Linked DNA regions of Homo sapiens. The protein of the gene in region 1 purifies or fractionates together with the protein of each later gene. This does not show direct contact. Each region holds a gene or a part of one and is shown on either strand. Other genes may lie near its edges. The genes, in order: CHN1 and CRAT.

Evidence for each region.
Region 2: the proteins of CHN1 (region 1) and CRAT fractionate together in Homo sapiens (co-fractionation; one large-scale study listed by BioGRID). This does not show direct contact.

What each region holds. Positions count from the first base shown.
Region 1 is NC_000002.12:174,876,262-174,880,079, forward strand, and holds part of CHN1 (N-chimaerin), read right to left. Parts: intron 1,868-3,818; coding exon 1,579-1,867; intron 1-1,578. UniProt on the Homo sapiens protein: GTPase-activating protein for p21-rac and a phorbol ester receptor. Involved in the assembly of neuronal locomotor circuits as a direct effector of EPHA4 in axon guidance.
Region 2 is NC_000009.12:129,100,546-129,104,363, forward strand, and holds part of CRAT (carnitine O-acetyltransferase), read right to left. Parts: intron 3,762-3,818; coding exon 3,643-3,761; intron 2,522-3,642; coding exon 2,468-2,521; intron 2,021-2,467; coding exon 1,855-2,020; intron 1,513-1,854; coding exon 1,338-1,512; intron 145-1,337; coding exon 1-144. UniProt on the Homo sapiens protein: Catalyzes the reversible transfer of acyl groups from carnitine to coenzyme A (CoA) and regulates the acyl-CoA/CoA ratio. Also plays a crucial role in the transport of fatty acids for beta-oxidation.

The DNA.
Region 1 (3,818 bases):
GAAAGCACGTTCAGAATGCATTAACAAAGGTTTTCACTAGGCTGATCAATTTTGAAAGACTCACATGTACACATTTTTAAACATTTCACAAATGCTGACTTAGAATGTTCTAGCAAATCTGCAAAGAATATAATGTCAGTATTATTCAAATACAAGCATTACTAAAAAATGCCATAAATGGAAAATCAACCAATAGTCAGAAAATGGGAACTAGACCATGAAAAGAATATTAAATACAGCAGGTATTAAGGATTTTAAGTTCTGGCTACTTCCAAACAAGATTTGTGGTTCCTAACAATATGAATATATAAAAAAACAATTTTTATACATTTTCTACAGCTTATCCTTTTAAATGTTGTTTTCTCCGTAGCAACAAAATGCCAATGTAAGATCTGCCAAAAACTAAAATTTGAGCTGGACACAAACTTTCTTATTTCCATTCTGTACCCAAATACTCTAAGGTAATGGGAAGTTATTTGAGGATGCTGCCTTGAGGTCAGATGGCTGCTATATAATAACATTACCACCAAACTACATTGAGTGTCTACATGTGCCAAGTGCTGATGGAGCATTTTACGCTTGCTATCTCACTCACTCCTCACAGCAATTTGACCATTATTACAATTTTACAAATAAGACAATCAAAAGCACAGACAAATTAGGTATTACAACTTGCACACAAATCTTGCATAGAATCCGAGCTCAAGACCTATTGCATTTCTTTGGTTTAGCAATTGAAGATTCTTAAAAACATAAAAATGAATTGACACAGTTCCAATTACAATACCTAAAATGCCCCCAACTAAATGTCACACACTATAAAACATCAGGAAAATCTCTTACTTTTTTCTTGGGGGTGAGGAGGAGGCTGGTGGCAATTTTCAAAAGTAAAATAATCTTAATGCCAAGAAATTAAAACTTTTATGTTAACCTGAAATATATCACAACTAAAATATGACAGCTAAAAAACTTAAATTGTCTTTTAGAATTAATTGTCTTTTATAATTAAGGAAAAGTAAAAGTGAATCTTACTCATTCAATTACTTCTTAACAGATTATAAAGAGATAAATCCTCCTCCTATTCAAGAATGACTGACTCCCAAAATGTGTGTGTATACATACACACACACATAATATACACACACACATAAAATCTTGCTAAGAACACAACTATTTATAAAGTAAATTATCTTTAAGGAAAACAAAAAAGTAATTTTGAGAGATAATGCAACCCCCTCAATTACTTACGTAATAGTAGCTATCTTTTCTTGACCAGGAGTTATGCTTCTGACCAATCCCCTGAACTATTTTTTATTAGGGGCCATTTTTCCAACATAGTTTTAAAATTGTGAAACTGATAAAACAGAAAACAACCAGGAATATAAAAATTTACCTAACATATTTTAATAGAACAAGAATTAGTTATATGCAAAGCTCAGCATCACAGAAACTAGACATTAAGAAAAATGAATATACTTTCCAAAGCACTGTGGATAAATCAATCTCTTCTGGCAATAATGGCTTTCTTAAAAGAACCCCAAACAGAAAAAGATAAAGTGTGGTTTCATAGTAGCTTACCCTTTTCTCTGACACCCCATCCTGGCCTGTAGAATCTCTCTCATCATGTGTCTCTTTCAGGACTGGCATATGTTTTTTGTATGCTGGCTCTCTGTTTAAGGTTGTGTATCCTACGTGCTCATAAATTGGGTTTATCGTCATCTTGGCAATGTATTCTGCTGCCTTGGTTTCAATATAGAGAGTAATCAAGCCATCAGTCACCAGATCGTGGATGGACTCAAAGCGTTTCTCCCCAACAAAGTGCTTGCCATCGTAGTAGAGCCTGAAGTTTCTGGTTTGACTTCCAAATCTGCCTCAATGAAATGGGAAAGATGTTTTTAAGAAAAGTAAGCAACTGAATTCTTTCTGAAAAAAAAACAAAAACAAAAAAAAACTATCGCTTTGTTTTGTGTGTGTCTTCTTTGTTTAAATAAGCTGTGGCTAATCTCTCTGAATCGTCTGGAATATATAAAATTAAACCTTTGAACACAAAGAATGAGCTTGCAATAATTAGGGACAACTAGTCAAAAGCATGCCTACCATAGAAATAATTTTTTTTATTTATCTTTTTAAACCACTTTATTATACCTGTGGAAAAAATGGGAGAAAATAAACCTCACACCACATTAAAACATAGTCAATATTCAATTGGCCAACTCCATAATAGATGACATTTCTATACTAACATTTTTTCTTCAAGTTGATCAATAAGAATATTCAATGTACTTTAGACCTCAGCAGTCATGTATTTTAATAGGAAAGCTCCATTTAGGGCTAACCAGAATATGATGCCAGCAATCACTTAAAGTAGAGCTGACTCCAGAAACCTGAGCCATGCAGGGCAGGATGGCACAGAAACACACTTTCGCTACTTCTGGCCACAGGCCAAGGACTTATTCTTTCGTTTTTAAAGAGTCATTATTCTGTCTGCTGGTTAGGTCTGTGCAAGAAATGTTTGAAATACATACGGCACAAAAGTCATAAGCTATTGGACTATAGAAATTCTGTTTTCAATTTTATGTTCTGATGATGTGCTCTAACAACTGAAGAATAATGGTTTACTTTTATGATAATTTCAGTATTTTGCTTCCTGCAGCAGACCTCAGAAATGGATCCAATTTGGCATGATTAACATCAGTGTCCTTGCAGGAAGACACAGGCAAGAAAATGCACTGACTTTAATGAAAGCAGATGTCAAAAGGCAACAAGGCAACAAGAGCTGCCAGTGTAATGGTCTCCTGAAGGTAACCCCGAGTGAGACTAATTAAAAACTAAACAAGTCACAAAGGATATATTTAATTTCATTGTTAAAAGTACAACAGAACAGGGATGAACTAAAATACTAAAATAAACGCTGTTTAAGTAAAGCGTTAAATGGGACTATAAACTTGTTATATAACAAAATTGTTCTGGTATAGGTTATATTCCAAATGAATAGGAGTTAGGAACATCTTAATGTGGAAATAAAGTATGGAAAGGAAATAAAATATTTTTTAAAATAATAGCCAGACGATGTCTGTTTCTGTAGTTCAAATTAGACTTTAATAACAATTTAATCTAGAATCCAACGTACTATCCATGTTGGCCCTTCTAAAGCATAATTTATCCATCCTTTAGTAACAATCAAATTTTGATTTACACTTAAGTGAACTATCCATATAATTACACTTTCTTGTTCTCCATTTTCCTCTAATGTTAAAGACACATTTCTCCCAAGTATATTTTCATTATAAAGCCTAAAAAATTAGACAGGTGAAATTTCTACACCAAAGTTAAATATAAAAGTTTTTCAGTTTAATATACTGCTTTCATCATTTCCTTTTTTTCTAATATACATTATCTGCAACATGGAAAGCAACTCCATAGCTTTTATAAGACTCCTACAATAATAAACACACATAGCATTGAGTCCCTTTATATTTCGGTTGTATCAGACACATTTCAATGAGGGCTCAGACCATTTTACTCCTGCTGGGACTTACGATTTTACAGTGGGCATTTCTACAGTGGATACAGAACTTAAAAACAATCCAAGCAATGGTGTCAGTCATTTAGTACTCAATTGCCTTTTGAAATCTGAGAAGTATGGGGGGCACAGGGCATGAAGGGAAGATGGCTGCACTGGGAATGGTTTGATTGACTAGGAACTAGGAAGTCTAGAGTTAACTTCCTAGTTCTTTCCAATGGACGATGCCTAATTCATCCAAGAAGAGGCCTGGCTACCTGTAAGGAGCTGTGCAAAAAACCCTATTTATCCTTTT
Region 2 (3,818 bases), on another chromosome or scaffold:
TGAGCCTGCTGCCGCCCCCATGCAGCATCTGGCCTGCCACGTGGCTGCGGTACACGTCTTCTGAGACCCTGGGCATGGTTGCATCTAGGCACACGGTGAAGATGCTCTTCTGGATGGAGCGCACGGAATCCCGGTTCACCTTGTCTGCAGGTGGCATGGGGCGGGGAGACGCAAAATGGGGTCTCATGGTGTGGGAGAGATGGACCAGCCCCTCCGCAGCCTCCTGCCCTGGGCTCTTCTGACCCATTTGTACCTCTCTGGGATGAGGAGACCCCCCACCTCGCCGGCCCTCCAGGGCATTCACCAAGTGCAGGGTGTGGGTTCAGAGCTTCGAACTCAACAGGACCCTGCAGGCCCACAGCACTCCTCGAGGCAGGGCCCAACACCTGGCCCACTTTAGACACAGGAAACCGAAGCCCAGGGGTCACATGGGAGCTGGTGTGGCAGCCGGGGAACCCACACAGGTGGTCTGACTTTGGGGTCAATGCCCCTGAGCAAGACATGCTTTGGAGGACTGCTGGTACTTGGGGGCACAGGGGGTGTGGAGGCGGGTGGGCTTCTCAGCCAGAGGACTTGGACTCTAATCCTAACTTGCTATTTAGCTGAGAGAAACTACCCTAACCATGAGGTGTCCTCAACTAGGACATGGGGCCCACATTGCCTGCTCCACGTTGAGAGGATGCAGCGGGAAACATGTCTGCCCATGGCTGTGCGGGGCCCAGCATGCCGGGGGAATGTTGGGAAAAGGACTTGTGGGGTGCCTGTATAAACTGGCCATAAAAATAGGGGACAATAAGTTGTGGAAAGCCAGAAGAGGCCACGGAGGAGGAAAGCCTACTAATTGCCATCATGTTCCCATGCTCAGAGCGAGACCCGCTCTCCTATCTGTAAACACTGTGTTCAAGGAGAAAGACACTCCTTTGAAACACTGGGAAGTGGACAGATGTGCAGGCTCCTAGTTAAGCCCGCTCCCACCAGCTACTCTCCGATAAGTTAAAGACACGCTGTTTGAGCACAAAGGAGATTCATTTAAACTGCTATTGCTATAGATTATGCCTCCTATGAGGCACTGCCTCCCTTTCACTGTTTCGCCCTGAACATGTGCTTCTTAGAGCTAAGTGACTGCACTCAATAGTGTGGAGACCAGAACTCTGCGCCTTTTGCAGCCTCCATTTTGCAACTGGCCCCTGGCTCCCACCTTCATGAACTCTTAACCTGTCTCTTCTCATTCCTTTGTTGCCAGCAGACTTCGGGTACCCTACAGGTGGAGTTGAGGCTGGTCCCCAACAGGGGAAGAGGCCTGGGTGTGCAGCCCCAGCACGGCCCCCAAGAGGCACCTTTGATGAGGGTGTTGTATGCCTTGGCCCAGGAGTTGCGGTGGTTGGAGGTGAGGATGCCCACAGGCTCCTTGTTGGTCTGTAGGGATGAGTTCCAGATCTTCTCCAGCTGCACAAAGATCTGATCCGCAGTGAGGGGTGTCCCGTCACTGTGGTACACATCCAGCTCAAAAAACTGTTGGGGCACAGGCAGGTAAGAGGAGGGAGCTGAGTGGGGACCTCAGGCTGAGAGCAGCCACCTCCCCACACCTGCCTCCTCCTGGCCTTGGCCTTGGAGGGGATGGAGTCAGGCCAAGGGTGAGAGGGGGAGGAGGTCCTTGGATCACCCTTCTGGGCTGGGCAGGCCCACGGCCCCTCCTGGCCTCCCTGGGCCCCCAATGGAGAAGCCAGGGGCGCCCATTCCTGGGGCACGTGGGCACGTGTGCTGGGGAACCCCAGTGGGGAAGCCGACTGCGGCCGTCCGGCTGTACTCCTGCAGCAGGGCCGGGGCTTGTAGGTGTGGGTGGGGGCCACCCACCTGGTAGTTGTGTACCACGGTGATGTGCGTGGGAGGCTTCTTGGTCTTGCTGAAGTTGCTGACTGTGTCCTGCTTGGGGCCCGGCACTCGGCAGGAGGACAAGATCTGATAGTACTGGTTCATGCACAGTGGCTTCCCCCCCAGGTACTCCACGGGCAGGGTCTCGCTATGGGGTAGAGGGGCAGTGAGGCCACCACTGGGCAAGTGAATGGGGAGGAGGGCAGGGTAGACAGGGACCTGCTAGGTACTGCTGGGGGCTCACACAGTGTCCCTGCTCCCACTCCCAGATGAGCAGGACACCTCAGGGCTGTGCTGTGGGCAGGGGGCTCGCTTTCTGCCCCAGATGGGCCCTGTTCAGAAGTCATCTAGAAACTCCCTCCTTTCCCCTCTCTGGGCTTCAGTTTGTCACAGGGGAGATGAAGCAGCGAATAAAACTCTGGGGTCCTCTTTAGTTGGGATGGGACAGGGTCACCCACCAAGAGGAGATTCCAGCAGCTGGAGCAGGGCCCAGGGCCCAAGCTGGCATGCCGGGCCAGGGCTGGGGTCAGAGGTGGCTGTGGTAATTAAGCAGGCCTGGGCAGGTGTGGGGCTGGGCAGGGGTGGGGATGCTCACTTGTCAATCATGACCTTGAAATCCAACACACCCTCAATGAGTTTGGCAGCAAATCTGGAAAGATTGATTAGAGATTAGAAGCTGCGTGGACACCCTGAGGGAGGCCCCGGGCTAGGGACACCTGCTTGGGGAGCGGGAGGTCTAGTCTTCCAGCCTCTCTCACCGCTTCCAGAAAGCCTGGGAGCGCAAGGGAGGGGCCTGCGAGTCCCAGCTTGCCAGCCTGTGTGTGCTTCTTCATAACCTCTAGAGGGAGCATGGTCGGGAGGGCTCGGGGAAGTGCTGGTGGCCAAGGGCCTAGTAGGACTTGGGTGCTGGCCCCCTGCAGCTGGAGTGTGGCTTGGTTAGGGGTCAGTGGGCTGGGTCTACCCACAAAGGGCCTGAGCTCCTGAACCTCAGCCTAGAATCTGGAGGGGGTGTCATCTGCTCTGAAGCATCGGTTCTGGAGGCCCCGGGCCCCTGGGGTGGTGTGATGGGAGAGCAGTGGCTCCGGTGTTCCCTCCACTAGGTCCCTTCCCCACTCTGGGCCTCTGTGTCCCCCAGGCCGCCTTCCTCCCAGGGCTGTCTGGCCCATGGCAACCACCCTCAATGCTTGGGGCCGCCCCTGGATCCCACCATGGGGACCAGTGGCTGGAGTTCCTGGGCCTGAACCCCGGCCCTTCCCAGGGTACCCTGGTCCCTTTAAGAGAAGCAGGTGGTGGCAGCCAGTGGCTGGTCCTTGGGCAGGAGATCCTTGTCACTGGTATTTTTATCTCTGGTAGGACTGGAATAGGGGCTGGGGCAGGTGACCTGGCTGAATGTGGAAAAGAGGACTGTGTACAGAGGTCACCCCTGTGGCTAGCTGAGAAGAGTGGAAAGGAGAGGTGAAGTGCTAAAACTGGGGTCGGGGAGAAGCCTCAGGTATGGAGGAGGATGGGGCCTCTGCGAAGATGTGGTGGTTAACAGCCATGAGGCTTTAGAGCTGGAGAGACCCTGCTTCCTGAATGGGGTCTTGGGCAGCTCCCTTCCCTGCTCCGAGCCTCAATTTCCCCATTTGTAAAATAGGGAGGATGCTCCCTACTTCATAAGGCTGCTTGTGGGGCAGAAAGATAAACAGGGTCGGGGCCCCTCCAAGCGGCTGGGCGAAGTGAACTCGAGGGGCCCGGCTGCCTCCTGGCCCCCAAACCCCAGCCACTCACCGGAGCTGACCCTGCAGGTCCACGAAGTCCTGCTTGGGTAGCATCACGCCTGGGCTCGAGTAGATGACCACAGGCTGGCGGTACTGGAGGTAGGCGGTCTTGAGCCACCACTCAGACAGCTGGGAAAAGTGCCAGAGCCTGTCAGGAGGGGTGCATGGGCCCTGGTGCCCCCTGTT